Linked DNA regions of Homo sapiens: region 2 is reported to be linked to region 1. Evidence: microRNA targets listed by miRTarBase, many of them from high-throughput screens and not tested one by one. Region 1 holds a microRNA gene; the other region holds the end of a gene's coding sequence.
What was found. The annotated mature microRNA hsa-miR-3135a reads UGCCUAGGCUGAGACUGCAGUG and lies in region 1 at 2,517-2,538, shown strand. An mRNA with a match to its seed (bases 2 to 7 or 8) in the 3' UTR can be bound and repressed. Matches are read on the target gene's strand: a 7mer-m8 pairs with bases 2 to 8, a 7mer-A1 pairs with bases 2 to 7 and ends in A, and an 8mer does both.

Region 2: miRTarBase lists GTF2B as a target of hsa-miR-3135a. The part of its 3' UTR that is shown has no 7-base or 8-base seed match.

Annotation. Positions count from the first base shown.
Region 1 is chr3:20,135,058-20,139,460 of GRCh38, forward strand. MIR3135A (microRNA 3135a) reads left to right here and starts at 2,508; the gene lies at 2,508-2,584. KAT2B (lysine acetyltransferase 2B) reads left to right here. Exons shown (of 18, transcript NM_003884.5): 12 at 1,885-1,995.
Region 2 is chr1:88,849,144-88,853,523 of GRCh38, reverse strand. It overlaps GTF2B (general transcription factor IIB), which reads left to right. Exons shown (of 7, transcript NM_001514.6): 7 at 178-891. The coding sequence ends at 311. Among named protein-coding and RNA genes, the nearest start is that of GTF2B, 40 kb to the left of the region's middle.

The DNA.
Region 1 (4,403 bases):
TCTATACACATGTGTTTATATGTTTATCTTCCCCATTTTACTATCGTCTCCTCAAGGAGAGAAATAGTTCATTTGTGTTTTTATCCAAGTTTTATTCAAACTCTCAGTGTTCAGTATTGTGATATGTTTGGGAAAAGTTAAAAGCTAAAATGTCTTTGGGTGACATCAATGGAAGAATAATTTGCAGAAGAGGGAGATGATGATACTGTTCTGTTTACTAGACATACCGTCCCCTTATTATTATGCTTGGTCCTAGGATCCATGCTTTAGAAAGGCATTGTTATATTAGAAAAAACTCCGAAAAAAGTGATTAGTGGCCGGGCGCGGTGGCTCACGCCTGTAATCCCAGCACTTTGGGAGGCCGAGACGGGCAGATCACAAGGTCAGGAGATCGAGACTATCCTGGCTAACACAGTGAAACCCCGTCTCTACTAAAAATACAAAAAATTAGCCAGGTGTGGTGGCGGGCACCTGTAGTCCCAGTTATTCGGGAGGCTGAGGCAGGAGAATGGTATTAACCTGGGAGGCAGAGCTTGCAGTGACCCGAGATCGTGCCACTGCACTCCAGCCTGGGTGACAGAGCAAGACTCCATCTCAAAAAAAAAAAAATAAAAACCAAAGTGATTAGTTTGATAAGGTGTCATTCAGTCATGCCATATGAGGAATGACTATAGCCTTGATGGTGCTTGGCTTGGGACTGGGAAAGTACGGATGGGCATGTGTGAGAGAGCATAATCTTCAAAGGCTTGAAGGGCTGTTAAAAGCAGGAATGAGTCTTTGTAACTCTAGGAGTAGAACTAAGGTCAATAAGTAGAAATAACAATGACCAGATCTTGGGTGAACGTTAGGAAGGAATTCCCAACTATATGATGCCTGAAAATGAATTGGTCTATCTCACCACCAAGGAATTGGCCTACGTTGGCGGTGTTCTAGCAGATTGCCTTTTCATGATAGATGGCAAAAGACCTCTAGCCTCATATGGATTAGGGGGTTAGATAGAATGACTTCCAAAGATCCTTCTGACCTTGAGGTACTGTGATTCCATGAGATCATACCTGGGAATATATTTGAGTTCTTTAGAAAAATGTGCCACCAAATTGCAGAAAATTTATGTGAAGATATTTGGGTCTGGACACTTGGATTTACTTTTATCTCTCTTTATGAGGTTCCAAAACAATCACATTAGATTTACACGTTTTCTGTAAGCTTTGTCACTGAAAAAACTTGATATTATAAAAATATTTCAATGACTGAGTTTATTCAACATTGTTGACTACCTTTAGTTACTTTCTAATGTCTTCTGGCTGATTCAGAGATTCTGGGCTTCTCAGACCTTACTTGGAAAGGTCTGATAAGACCAAATTTAAAATGCTATGTATGTGATGATTCAGTTCTTTAGAAGGGTTGCCAGTTTGTGGTGTACAGTAAACACTTGGATTACTAAATATTCTAGTGAAGATTAGCACTTTTCATTTGCATCTTTTTTTTTTCTTCTGAGATTCTCAAATACCTTAAAGATAAGCAGAAATTCATAATCTACATTCATTCTGAAAACTTTTATATTACTATTCAGCAAGTGATCTTTAAGATTGAGCTAGGAACTTGTGGCCCTGGTGTGTTATTTTCAAATAACTAGAAACTTACATTTTCAAATGATGATTTTTATCTTTGAAGCAAGGATTTTGATTTTGTTTTGGTTTTATAGCTTATTTTCAAAGTTAAGAAACGCAAGAAAGGGTGTTAATATATTTCATTCAGGAAAGGTCCTGGTTGGTAAAATATGTAAAAGTACAAACTTCTGAATTCACCATCATTTCCTGATGGATTTGTAAAAATTTTTCTCCCCAGTCTAATGTATTTGTTTGTATACTAACTTCCACACAGGGCTATGGAACACACCTGATGAATCATTTGAAAGAATATCACATAAAGCATGACATCCTGAACTTCCTCACATATGCAGATGAATATGCAATTGGATACTTTAAGAAACAGGTTGGTTTCTCACCACGCAACACTGTTTTGTCACTCCTTTTCTTAATATGTTCTCAGGTAGCGTTCTTCCAAATAAGTTTCTCCCCCAGTGTTTTCTACTTATAAGAACAGGCATTTGTTTTACAAGCCTTATGTCAAAAATAAGCTTCAGCCTGGATTAGAGAGTGTCACTAGCACATAGTAAGTATTGAATAACTATTTGTTGAGAGAATGAATGAATGTCACCTGTCAGTGAGGTATAATATTGCATCCTAACATTCTAAAATATGGTTTCTAATAAGAAATTCCCAGTCCTGGAATTTGGTGGGTAGCATTCTCTGTGAATGAGAAAAACAGATTCAGTTTCTGGAAGGCCTCCATTTATGACAGCAGAAAGGAAATCCTGGAGTTTATAAAAACCTGCAAACAGTCCTGATTCTACAGCACATAGTGGGCTAGGAGCTTGGCTGTCATCTTTGCAGTTCCTTCCTTTCTCCGTTCCTCCCTTCCTTTTTTTTTTTTGAGACAGGGTCTCACTTTGGTGCCTAGGCTGAGACTGCAGTGGTGCAATCTCAGTTCACTGCAGCCTTGACCTCCTGGGCTCAGGTGATTCTCCCACCTCAGCCTCCCAAGTAGCTGTGACTACACCCAGCTAATTTTTTGTATTTTTAGTAGAGACAGGGTTTTGTCGTGTTACCCAGGCTGGTCTCGAGCTCCTGGACTCAAGCAATCCACCCACCTCGGCCTCCCTAAGTGCTGGGATTATAGGCGTGAGCCACCTCACCAGGCCTCTGTCCTAGCAGTTTCTTATCAGAAGTTTTCAGCTCAGGCCAGGTGCAGTGGCTTATGCCTGTAATCCTAGTACTTTGGGAGGCCAGGGCAGGAGGATTGCTGTGCTCAGGAGTTTGAAACAGCCTGGGCAACATAGTGAGAACTTGTCTCTCTTTAAATAAGTCTTAAAATAAGTTTTCAGCTCAGCTTTTTGAGGACTATTCTTTGACTGCATATTATTTTTAATAGTGATTTATAATTCCTAAACATTTTCATTTACTTTTCTGACTATAAAAGTAATGTGTAATCATTGTAGAAAATGTAATAAAGCAAAAGAAGGAAAGAAAAATGGCTTGTAATTCTGTCACCCCAAGAAATTTACTGTTAATGCTTTGATTTTTTTATTTTAAAATTTTTTCTGTTATTTTTCCTCTCAGCTCATACCTATGCTGTTAATGCTTTGACATAAATCTTTTTAGTATTTTTTCTGTGTGTATATAAACATAAAAGTTGGTTCATACTGTGTATATAATAATTTTGGTGGTTTCCTAGGATTTTGTTGTAGAAATAGAAAATATTTAACCAATACATTTTTGACTAGGTGTTTCTTGTAGGTAATGTGCATGTGTATGGGTGTGTGTTTGTGTACATGTTTTGCCCTCATTGATGGTAATTTGCTTAGAATAAATCAAGGTTTTTGTAATGTGTTGCTAAATATTTTAAAAATTTCCATTTTTGTCAGCAGTGTATAAGGGGGTCAGGAAAGGAGTTGGTAACTGAAAAAAAATTTACCACTTTTCCAGATAATAAATTGTGTATGTTTGAATTTATTTATGTGAAGTTTGATTTATTTTTCCATGTTTATCAATTCTTTGTATTTGTTCCTTTTTTGGATTGCTAATTCATTTTCTTTTGTCCCTTTTTCTATAAAAATGTTTAGTTGTACATTGATTTGTGAGAACTATTAGTATATAACTATATTAACCTTGGATAATATTTGTTTCAACATTGCTTATGGCTTTTTCTTTAAATCTTCAGAATGTTAAAGATGTTATTACATAAAATCTATTGACTTGTTTTGGTTTGGATTTTGTTTGTTTGTTTGTTTTGAGACAGGGTCTTACACTGTCACCAAGGCTGGAGTGCTGTGGCATGATCATAGCTCACTGCAGCCTCAACCTCCTGGGCTCAGGCGATCCTCCTGCCTCAGCTACCTGTGTAATTGTGACCTCAGGTGCATGCCACCATGCCCAGCAATTTTTTTTTTTTAATCATTTGTAGAGATGGTGAGGGGTTGGGAGAGAATCTTGCTATGTTGCCTGGGCTGGTCTTGAACTCTTGGACTCAAGTGATCCTCCTGCCTCAGTCTCCCAAAGTGCTGAGATTATAGGCATGAGCCACTGCACCCAGCCAGACTTCTTTTTTTTTAAAAATGTGTTCTTATGTAATTAGAAAGCTTTTTGTGCTCTGAAGACAGATAAATAATCTCCTATTTATTATCTTCTCATTGTTTGAGATGCATTTTAACTTTTATGGTAAAACTCACTGAGAACTTAATTGGATTGTTTCACTGAGGTCTTGAGCATCAGCTTTCCTCAGCTGTAACTGTAGTGCAAAGCATAAGATCTCAGCTATGGTTCTTAAATGACTTGTCTGTA
Region 2 (4,380 bases), not on the chromosome of region 1:
CTAGCTCCCGCTTTCTACCTTTTAGTATGTATTTCTATTATCAGTTTTTAGAAATCACTTCTGGTTTTGTTTTTAAGTTTGGCACTTTATACTATCATATCTCACAAATTACAATGCAGGTAGTGGAAAGGAGGTAGGATGGAAATGATGGTTAATGTTTCGATTTTTGTCTTTTAGAAATTGGAGATATTGCTGGTGTTGCTGATGTTACAATCAGACAGTCCTATAGACTGATCTATCCTCGAGCCCCAGATCTGTTTCCTACAGACTTCAAATTTGACACCCCAGTGGACAAACTACCACAGCTATAAATTGAGGCAGCTAACGTCAAATTCTTGAATACAAAACTTTGCCTGTTGTACATAGCCTATACAAAATGCTGGGTTGAGCCTTTCATGAGGAAAAACAAAAGACATGGTACGCATTCCAGGGCTGAATACTATTGCTTGGCATTCTGTATGTATATACTAGTGAAACATATTTAATGATTTAAATTTCTTATCAAATTTCTTTTGTAGCAATCTAGGAAACTGTATTTTGGAAGATATTTGAAATTATGTAATTCTTGAATAAAACATTTTTCAAAACTCAAGTTTTTGTTATATGTTACATGTAACTTATGATACATAATTACAAATAATGCAAATCATTGCAGCTAATAAAGCTGATAGACTTTATTTCCATTACTTATATATACATAGTTTTTTATTTTAATAAATTTATGGAAAGAGCAAAAGCTTTTGAGAACCATTGTTAACATCAACATCATAGTTTCCAGTTTGAAAGGATGTGTATGTGAGATTTATTATGTATATTATTAAACAAGAAGTGATGAGCTTGGGCCTTGAAAGGCACCAGCTTGAGAGACATTAAAATGTTCTAAGTATGTGATTTTCTTAGTGAGCTTATTGAGCAGAGAATATGATGCTGATAAAAGCAGCAGTAGAACAACAGATTTTAATTTTTGGGTGTTAAAATCTTATGTTATAGAATCTGCATATCCCTGGTTCTTTTTTCTTCTTTGTTAGGCTTACTGGTGTACTCATAGACTAAAGAGCATTTCATTTATTTATTATCTATTATTTTTTGATACAGAGTCTTGCTCTGTTGCCTAGGCTGGAGTCCAGTGGCACAATCTCAGCTCACTGCAACCTCTGCCCCACCTCCAGGGTTCAAGCGATTCTCCTGCCTCAGCCTCCTGAGTAGCTAGGATTACAGGTGCCCACTACTAGGCCCAGCTAATTTTTTTTGTATTTTTAGTAGAGACAGGGTTTCGCCATGTTGGCCAGGCTGGTTTAGAACTCCTGACCTCAAGTGATCCACCTGCCTTGGCCTCCCACAGTGCTGGGATTAGAGGCGTGAGCCCCCATCTGGCCTAAAGAGCACTTTAAATGAAGATTACTGGGCCTGGGATTGTCCAGTAGTTGTTTTTAACTAGCATCCTTTACGTGATTGTGATGTGTTAGATGTTTTGCCTATGACTCTTTAAGGAACAATGATTTAGGGTCATTTGACTTCTACTCACTATAAGAGAAGACCAGCAACATTTTGCTCTTTGATCAGGTAGTTTTTACAGGGGACTTGAATTCATACTAGACATCACCACTGTTCACTGCTCTGGAAACAGGTGTCACAGTTCTGAAACATCTGAAAAGAGGTTAGCACTAGACTAGAAAGACAATCTCCTGTTGTGGCCTGGTGGGCAGGGTCAGACTGGTTCATAGAGGGACTTTCCCAAGAGCAGACCTCCACTGCCATTCTGCTGACCATGGAGCAGGGATAAGTATTGGCACCATGAAGACAAGTGGTATTTTTCCCTTGAACAAAACATAGGACACTCACCCAGTATTGCTCAGAGCTAGGGGAGAACACCGGAAAAATAATCCAGTCAGGGAGAACCTGTCCCACCCAGCGTGAGACCTAGGAAGAAGGAAGCTTCAGTCTATCTCCCTTCTGGACGGCATCTTTGATCTCTAGCATCACACATCTCCACATACGGACTAAGGAGCAGGGGTGCTTTCTAGTGTTCCCCAGGTTCTAGTGACTAGCCACAAAGTTCCCCATTCAGTGACCACTGCAGTTATCAAAGGTTATTTTTGCACTTAGTAAAGGTCAGTACCTACAGATTACAGAAAATTAGGAAAATACATAAGTCACCCGGAAATAACGAGTATTTTGGTGGCTTTTTTCTTTTCTTTTCTTTTCTTTTTTTTTTTGAGACGGGGTTTCACTCTGTAGCCCAGGCAGGAGTGCAGTGACAGGATCTTGGCTCACTGCAACCTCTGCCTCTCGGGTTCAAGTGATTCTCCTGCCTCAGCCTCCCAGTACTTTTTTTTTTTTTTTTTTCATTTCAGCTTCTTGCTGTGCTTATTTTAAGAGAAAGATTCTCACTTTGTCAGCCAAGCTGGAGTGCAGTGGCATGATCATACCTCACTGTAACCTCAAACTCGGGGTGAACTGATCCTCCTCAGCTTCCCAAGTAGCTAAAACTACAGGTTCAGGACACCATACCCAGCTAATTTTTTCTTTTTTTGTAGAGACATGTCTCAGTATGTTGCTCAGGCTGGTCTGAAACTCCTGGCCTCAAGTAATCCTCCCACTTAAGCCTCCCAAAACACTGGAATTACAGGCATGAGCTACCGTGCCTGGCCCACATTTTTTTCAGCATAACTGATTAAGATTTAATATGACTTGTTTAGTCTGTTCGATTTTCTGGTTAAAAAGATGCATTTATTAGGTAGCTAGAAAAATTCAGATAAAGGGAAAAGAAAAATCTAGCCCTTACTACTTGTGTCAACAACATGGTCTTTTTTGTTTTGTTTTGTTTTGTTTTTTTGCTGTCTATACATTTGTAAAGTTTGGATCAGGAGAATTGATTTTGAAGATTAATCTGGAGTCAGAGGGTATGTTTGGATTGTTTTTTTGTTTGTTTTGAGAATGAGGCTTGCATTGTAGGCATTTCTTGAAACTAAAGGAATTAAAATGCTAGTTATAAATCCTCCGTAAGCCACCCGTATGGTTAAATCAGCTTAATTCCAGATACTGAAATAAAGAAAAATGTCTATTCGAAGGGTAACTAGTAGCACTGTGACCTGTTTTTTCCTTCCATCCCTGGCTTCACATGCTTGAGTGTTCTCAAAAGGGGTAGAAGTGGTTGGAATTGGATCCGTTGTTAATAACCCTTTTGGGAAGTCATTAAATCTGACTACTGGAATATTTTCGCTTTCAGCAAAGAAGCGCAGGGCTCCGCAGCAATTCTGTTTGGGGCTCAGGCCCCTCAAGCGTTCTTCACCTGAGCAGGCCCTAGTCCTTATTTGTCTATTTCTTTGAAGACTGTTCCATCTTTATGGAGGTTTTAGTTGGATGATTTTCTACTAAAATTCACTGAAGATGTGGAGTGTTCATTCACAACTAAATCTTACTTATTGTGGCAAAATTACTAATACGTAGACATTTTGAAAATTATGGCCAGGCCCTACTTAGAGTGAAAAGAATTTGACATACTTTGAAAACAATACATTGTAAATTAGTGATTCAACGTGACTGATCTCTTGAGTTGCGAAAAATCCTATATAAAAGTGAACACCCACCTTATTGAGAGATGAGCATACTTAGATCTTGAAGCCAGCTTCTTCTGGGGCCTACATTTTACAAGTAAGTAATATTACTGAGCTATGCAACATAGTTTCTATGAAGATAACGTGGATCCACTTTGTGCATGTTAGCATTTTTTTTTTTTTGAGACGGAGTCTCTTGTCAGCCAGGCTGGAGGCAGTAGCACGATCTCGGCTTACTGCAACCTCCGCCTCCGAGGTTCAAGCCATTCTCCTGCCTCAGCCTCCTGAGTAGCTGGGATTACAGGTGCATGCCACCACAGCCAGCTAATTTTTGTATTTTTGGTAGAGACGGGGTTTCACCATGTTGGTCGGGCTGGTCTCGAACTCCTGACCTCAGGTGATGCGCCCGCCTTGGCCTCCCAAAGTGCTGGGATTACAGACTTGAGCCACCTTGCTCATGTTAGCCACATGTTAGCATTTTTAAACAGTTGAAGTATTCATGAATTTGGTTCCTTCCATTTGGGTATTTGAAACATTCACTGGAAGCCACTTTCATTGATAACCTCTGCTATTACTCTGAGAGTTCAAGGATTTGATTATACGTTTCATGAAATCTTAGCTTCAGTGCTGTGGTCCAATCTCCCCATTTGGTATATCAGAGCAGTGTAGAGAAGTGAGAAGATCTGCGCAAGTTCTCTTAGTAGCAGCAGAGATGAGACGGACTGAGGTTTCAGTCACTCAATCTGGTGTTCTTTCCACTGAACCATACCATTGAAGCTCACCTCACAGGAGGTTGCCTGAGGACCAACTTTAGTTGTACCCT